Linked DNA regions of Homo sapiens: region 1 is linked to region 2. Evidence: fine-mapped expression QTL. A gene starts in region 2. The other region holds a variant in brackets. All regions are shown on one strand. Distances are between the middles of the regions.

What was found. PIP is the estimated chance that this variant, and not a neighbour inherited with it, causes the effect.
Region 1: its variant is fine-mapped to the expression of BCL9L in whole blood (TOPMed, PIP 0.90).

The regions. Positions count from the first base shown.
Region 1 is chr11:118,901,069-118,903,965 of GRCh38, forward strand. BCL9L (BCL9 like) reads right to left here. Exons shown (of 10, transcript NM_001378213.1): 6 at 2,168-2,384; 7 at 1,922-2,006; 8 at 1-1,840. Among named protein-coding and RNA genes, the nearest start is that of MIR4492, 8.2 kb to the right of the region's middle. The variant T/C (reference allele first, on the strand shown) is at 1,048.
Region 2 is chr11:118,924,298-118,927,194 of GRCh38, forward strand. BCL9L (BCL9 like) reads right to left here and starts at 1,629. Exons shown (of 10, transcript NM_001378213.1): 1 at 941-1,629. RefSeq lists enhancers at 1-117, 346-415, 787-1,288 and silencers at 1,484-1,533, 1,734-1,873, 2,694-2,753.

The DNA of each region.
Region 1 (2,897 bases), 23 kb before region 2:
GAGGCATGTGGCTGAGCCGGGTGGTGCCCACGTTGCTCATGGGCATTGAGCTCTGATCAGGGCTGAACATGTCTTGGGTATTGCCCATGTCCTGGGACATGGCTTGGTAGGGTCCCTGGCCTCCAGAGAATCCCTGCTGGCCCTGGTTGGGAAACTGTGAAGGCATCAGCATCTTCTGCGGGCCGCCCATCACGCCACTGCTGTTCTGGGCCCGAACCCGGGCCATCTCCTCAGGACTGAGGCCCTGGGGCCCCATCAAGTCCCCAGGGCCCCGCATCTTCTGCGACATCAGCATCTGCTGCTGCGGGGTCATCTGCACGTTCAGGTTCATGTTCATGTTCATGTTGACATTCATGTTCATGTTGAGGTTGCCTGGCCCCATGGGTGGGTCCACCTCCCTCAGCCCAGACTGCCCCATGGGAGGGCTCAGGAGGCCCCGGCCTCCACCAAACTCCATGCCCATGGGAGTGCCCGCCAGGCCCTCACCACCAGCCATCTGCCCGGGAAACATGGCAGGATCCATCTGTCGGTGCGCCTGCATCATCCGCTCCATCTCCATGCTCTGTCCCATGCCACTGCCTGCCATGCCCAGGGGGCGCTGCATGCCCATCGACCGCTTCTCCAGCAGCTGGTGCCGCAGCAGCTCCTCACGGACCCGGGGAGTCATGAATCGCTCCGCCTCACCCTGCCCACCTGGGTAGGGCATGGTGTTCTGGGCAAAATTGCTGGGTCCCCCCATAGGGGGCAAGTCTTCGGTCCAGCCCATGCCTGGTCTCACGGGCCTCTGCATGGCATTCATGGGCACCTCCATGGGCATACTCTGCATGCCCCCAAACCCAGGTACCCGTTGTATCTGGTTGCCTGGGAAACGGGGCCCAGGAAAGGGAGGTCCGCCCCGGAGCTGCATGGGATCTTGAACATCCATGGGCCCCCGCAGCTGCGCACCCATTCCAGGTGGCCACTGATCCCCAGGCTTGCTGTGGTAAGGAGGCGGGGGCCCCCTCACCATCATGCCCCCCATGCCCATCATGTCCTGCAGAGGACGGC[T/C]CCCATGCAGCCCAATCTGTTCCTCTTTCCGCCGTTTCTCTTCGTAGTACTCCTCCTGCAGCTTGCGCCAGGCCACCTGCTCAGGCGTGAGGCTGTCCTGGCCCAGCCTCTGTATCATCATGTTCATCTGCTGCCCCATGTCCCCACCCGGGGGGTGCCCAGGCACTTCATGCTCCAGCGGGGGGCCCCCTAGGCTCTGTGTCTGTGAAATCATGGACTGCAAGGGTTCCTCATATTTCTTCAGCCCGCTGGGAGGGGCCGTGGGTGGCTGCTGGGGGGGAGGGGGGGCTTGTGCTGGTGGGCCCCCCTCACCCGCTCCTCCTGGGGGCCCCTTGAGGAAGGGCTCAGTCTCTCCGCTGCGGAGCAGCAGTCGCTCAATGTCTCGCAGCGTCTGGAGGGACCGTTCCCGATGCTCCAGCTGCTCTTTGGACAAGCCCTCTGAGCCCACCAGGCTGCGCTGCCCATTTCCAGGGGCGGCTGCCTCCCCCAGCAGGGCAGGGCCGGGGGCACTGCTGGGGTCTCCTCCAGGAGGCAGAGGGTTGTTGGCGGTGGTAGCCGTCGGGGTGTTAGGGTGGGTGCCCCCAGTCCCACCACCTGTGCTGGCAGCTCCCACCGAGTTGGGGGCCAGGTCCTGACTGCTGTCCTCAGGAGGCCCCTCTGGGGGCAGAGCAGGCGGGGCACTGCCAGGGGCCGGGGGTGGCGGCGGCGGCAGTGGAGGTGGCTGGGACTGCGGGGTGCCTGCTGACGGCGTGCTCAGGGGTAGCGGTTCTGGGGTGGGGGGCACTTTAGGGGCCTGCAGAAGGACAAAGAGAGCATGAGACAGGTAAGGGGACGTTCCACCCAGTCCTGCTGCTCACAGAGGCGCCACGCTCACCTGGTCAAGCTTGGCCCGGGGCACGTTCTGCTGGTGGTAGGCGAGGATGGAGTCGGCCCGGCCCTGCAGCACTGCCTCTGCAGCCCTGCACAGAGTGGGGGCACCGACAGCTCAGAGAGGTGAGCAGGAGGGAGCCCCACCCTCACCCACCCCACCCTGCCCCTGCACGGGGCTCCCTCGGAACCCCAGGCTGAGAGGTGCTGGGCAGAGAGAGAGAGAGACTTGGCCTGCCCACCAGGCACTTACGTGTTGGCCAGGTGGGTGGTGAAGACATATACGAACTGCGAGGGAGGCTTTCCGGGGACGCCCCCGCCCCCGCCCCCGCCCCCAGGGGCATCAGGCCGAAGGCCAGGAGGAGGGCCGTGCGGGGCGCCTGGCACGCTGCTCTCGCTGAGGGGCAGTTGGGTGGTTTGGCCGGGACCCAGCTGTGGGGCCGCCATGGCTGGGTCTGCTACATTACAATCTGCAGGAGAGAGGACAGGGAAAGGGGCTAAGTGGTCTAGATACAAGAAGGACCAGCTGATGCCCCCTCCCACTGATGCTCACAGCCTTACAGCTCGTGCCCACAGGGACATTTGATGTCAGTATCTGGTGTTCTCACCAGGCTGGTTTCCACGATGGCAAGAGTGGTGACCATGTGGAGAGCAGGGACAGAGAAAATGTGTCCTCTCCACAGGCTCCCATGGGCCTGGCATTCTGCTGGGGACTTAACAGGTGTGATTTCATCTCATCAACACACCCTGGGAGGAACGTGTCACACACTCCACTTAACAAAGGAGGAAATAAGTTCCTCACCCACAGTTACACAGCCAGTTAGTGCAGAGCCAGAACTGAACCCAGGGCCGGGACTCTGAAGCTCCGCTCTGAGCTGCTGCCCCTCTCACTGGGTAAGTGTATGTGCACACAGTCTAGTGACCCAGTTAGGGAGAAGGCAGAGAGGGTACACAAGCTGATGATCCAAATGATGGATGGTTTT
Region 2 (2,897 bases):
TTCTCCTCGCAGCAGAGGTTCCCCCAGACACAGACACAGACACAGACACACACCCCAAGCAGTAGACAGAAAGAGAAGGGAGAGAGGGGGTGTCAGAAAAACCCGGAAGGAAGGAAGCTGGACAGACAGACAGTAGCTGATCCTAGCTTCATTGCTCCAGAGAGACACCCTCCAGACTCCTAGACTTCAAGGGACACTATCCTTCTCAGAAGGAGAGAGCAGCCCTCTGTCTCTTCTGAAACCAAATTCCAGCAGCCCTGGAATAGGACCTACCCCAGCGCAACAAGAAGCCTAAGCTCACTTCTCTTCCTACATTCTTCCCCGAGGGTTCCTTTGGATCAAGACAGGGGCCACCTCCCCTTAGCAGCGCAGGGACACTTCCAAGGAACTGTATGACTGCCCCACCCCCCAGCCAAGCCCACATCACTCAGAAGCCTTGGAAGAAGAGACTCCTCAGTCACAGCCCCCGCTACTCACAGGCAGTGCCTGGGAGAAAAGGGTGACCCCCAGCTCTCCCCAGTCCCAACCCACCTCCTTCTGGAGGCTCCTATCAGCCAGAGGAGGAGGGCTGGGGTGCTGAGACCCACGGGGTTGGTGAGCCTGGGAGGGGGACTACATCTCCCAGAAGCCCCCAGGGCAAGGTTCGCTGCTCCAGCTGGCCCAAGGCCGGCCTTGTTCTCTGCGCTAGGGTGGCAGGGTCCCCTGGCTGTCCCTAAGCCCTCCCCACGGTGTTCTGGAGCTGCCAACCTGATTGGGGGCTTAAGAGTAGCCTCCACTGACCCTGGGGGAGTCCCCCACACCTTAAACAGCCTGGGGGTACGTGCCAGAGAGCAAGAGACAATCAGACTGTGTTTCCCCTCCCCGATTCAAACTGGATCTCCCTCCTCGCGCCTCTGCTGGCCTGGCATGACTTTCGCCTTGCCCCCAGCCCACCCCTCACCTCACGCGGATTGGGGGGTCCTCACGCCAGGCCGGAGCTGGACGCCATGACCAGGTCAGGGTCGTTGTGTGGATGGGGGTCCTCCTGCTCGCCAGTTGGAGATGCAGAGGGGGCGGGCAGGCGGTGATCTTTTGATCCTGGACGCCTTGATCTCAATACCAGCCCGGCCCGGGAGAGGCTATCCGGGGATCGCTGGGTGCCTGGGTTCCTGCCTCCCAACCGCGGAGCATGGTCGCGGGCGCCGGGCAGTGGCGGGAGAGCGCGCACACCCGCCGGGGCCGGGGCGCGGGGCCGGGGTCTCGGCCCCGAACCTCAGGGCTCCGGCTCCTGCTCCTGCTCCTCCTTCCCTTGCTTGCTTGCTTGCTTCCTTCCTTCCTTCCTCGCCTCTCCTTTCCTTTCCCCAAAGCCCGCGGGAATGCCGGGCGCTGGGTGGGGAGGGGCTGTCTGGGCGCTTATTGTTGGTCGGACTCCGAGGGTCCGGGTCACAGCCCCCGGGCGGCGCGGCGCCGGGGGACCCAGGCGTGCGGGCGTCCGGCCGGCTGGCTCCGGGCGGCGGCGGTGGTGCAGCGGCCCCGGGTCCGGGGCATGTCCAGCCACTGGCTCCGCCGCGCGCCGCCGCCTCCCCGGGCTCCCCTGCGCTGCCGGAGCCTCGCTTGCCCCTCCACTCGGCTCCACTCCCCAGCCTGAATAAGCATCGGGGCTCTCTGGCTGCCTCCTTCTGCCTTCATACCAGAGCCCGGAGAGGCCCCTGTCAAAATAAGAGCTCCCCCATCTCGCTTGCCTCCTCGCCCAACCCGGCTCCCCCAGCCTCCCAGTGGTCTGACTCGGTAAGGCGCCCGGCCGGCTAGCGGGAGGCAGGTTGGCCCGGGGGCGGGGAGGGGGGTTTCTGCTCTCCTCCTCACTCCTGAGAACTGGGGAGGAGACGCGCCAACAACATCCCAGGCTAGGGAAAGGTTTGACAAACCTACCTTCCTATCTGCACTGATTGGAAGGAGTGGAAGTTGCCTGGACACACGCGCGCGCACACACACACACACACACAGCACTGGGTCCCCTCTTCGTTGTACCCACCCACATCCATAATGCACTGAGCATCTCTTTATTCATGTCTCTCCTAGTAGACCATGAGGTCCTTGAGGACACAGACTGAGTTTTTTCATCTCAATCCTCAGCAGCACAAAGTGCATGCTAAGAAAATGTTTGTGGAAGTGAAACCTTTGTCTTCTCAAAAGAACTCTCCTAACCTAACCTCAAAGTGCTTCTCTCTCTCTCTCTCTCTCTCACACACACACACACACACACACACACTCTCACCACCCTATAGGACGATCGAGGCAATGAAAAAGAAAATGTAAAGCCCTTTTTTTTTTTTGAGATGGAGTTTCGCTCTTGTTGCCCAGGCTGGAGTGCAAAGGCGCGGTCTCAGCTCACTGTAACCTCTGCCTTCTGGGTTAAAGCGATTCTCCTGCCTGAACCTCCCAAGTAGCTGGGATTGCAGGCACCTGCCACCATGCCCGGCTAATTTTGTATTTTTAGTAGAGACAGCGTTTCACCATGTCGGCCAGGCTGGTCTCGAACTACTGACCTCAGGTGATCAACCTGCCTTGGCCTCCCAAAGTGCTGGGATTACAGGCGTGAGCCACCGCGCCCGGCCCAAAGCGCTTTTTAAAAACATTTCACATGTTTCAATGCTCACCACAAACCTGCAAGAAAGAGGTTATGGTCCCATTACAGAGGTGAGGAAATTGAGGTTTGCATTACCTAAGGACTTACCCAGAGCTACCCAGCTAGAAAGTGGTAAGCCCAGGACTAGAATTTGGGTCTCCTTATCCCAGGGCACTTTCCCTGTTTCCTACTGTCCCCACCCACCCAGAATTAATAGCAAGTGACAAGCATTGACTGTGTCTGATAGGAAGAACACTAGCCAGCCTGCTTGTTCCTGCTGTTTCCTCGGCCC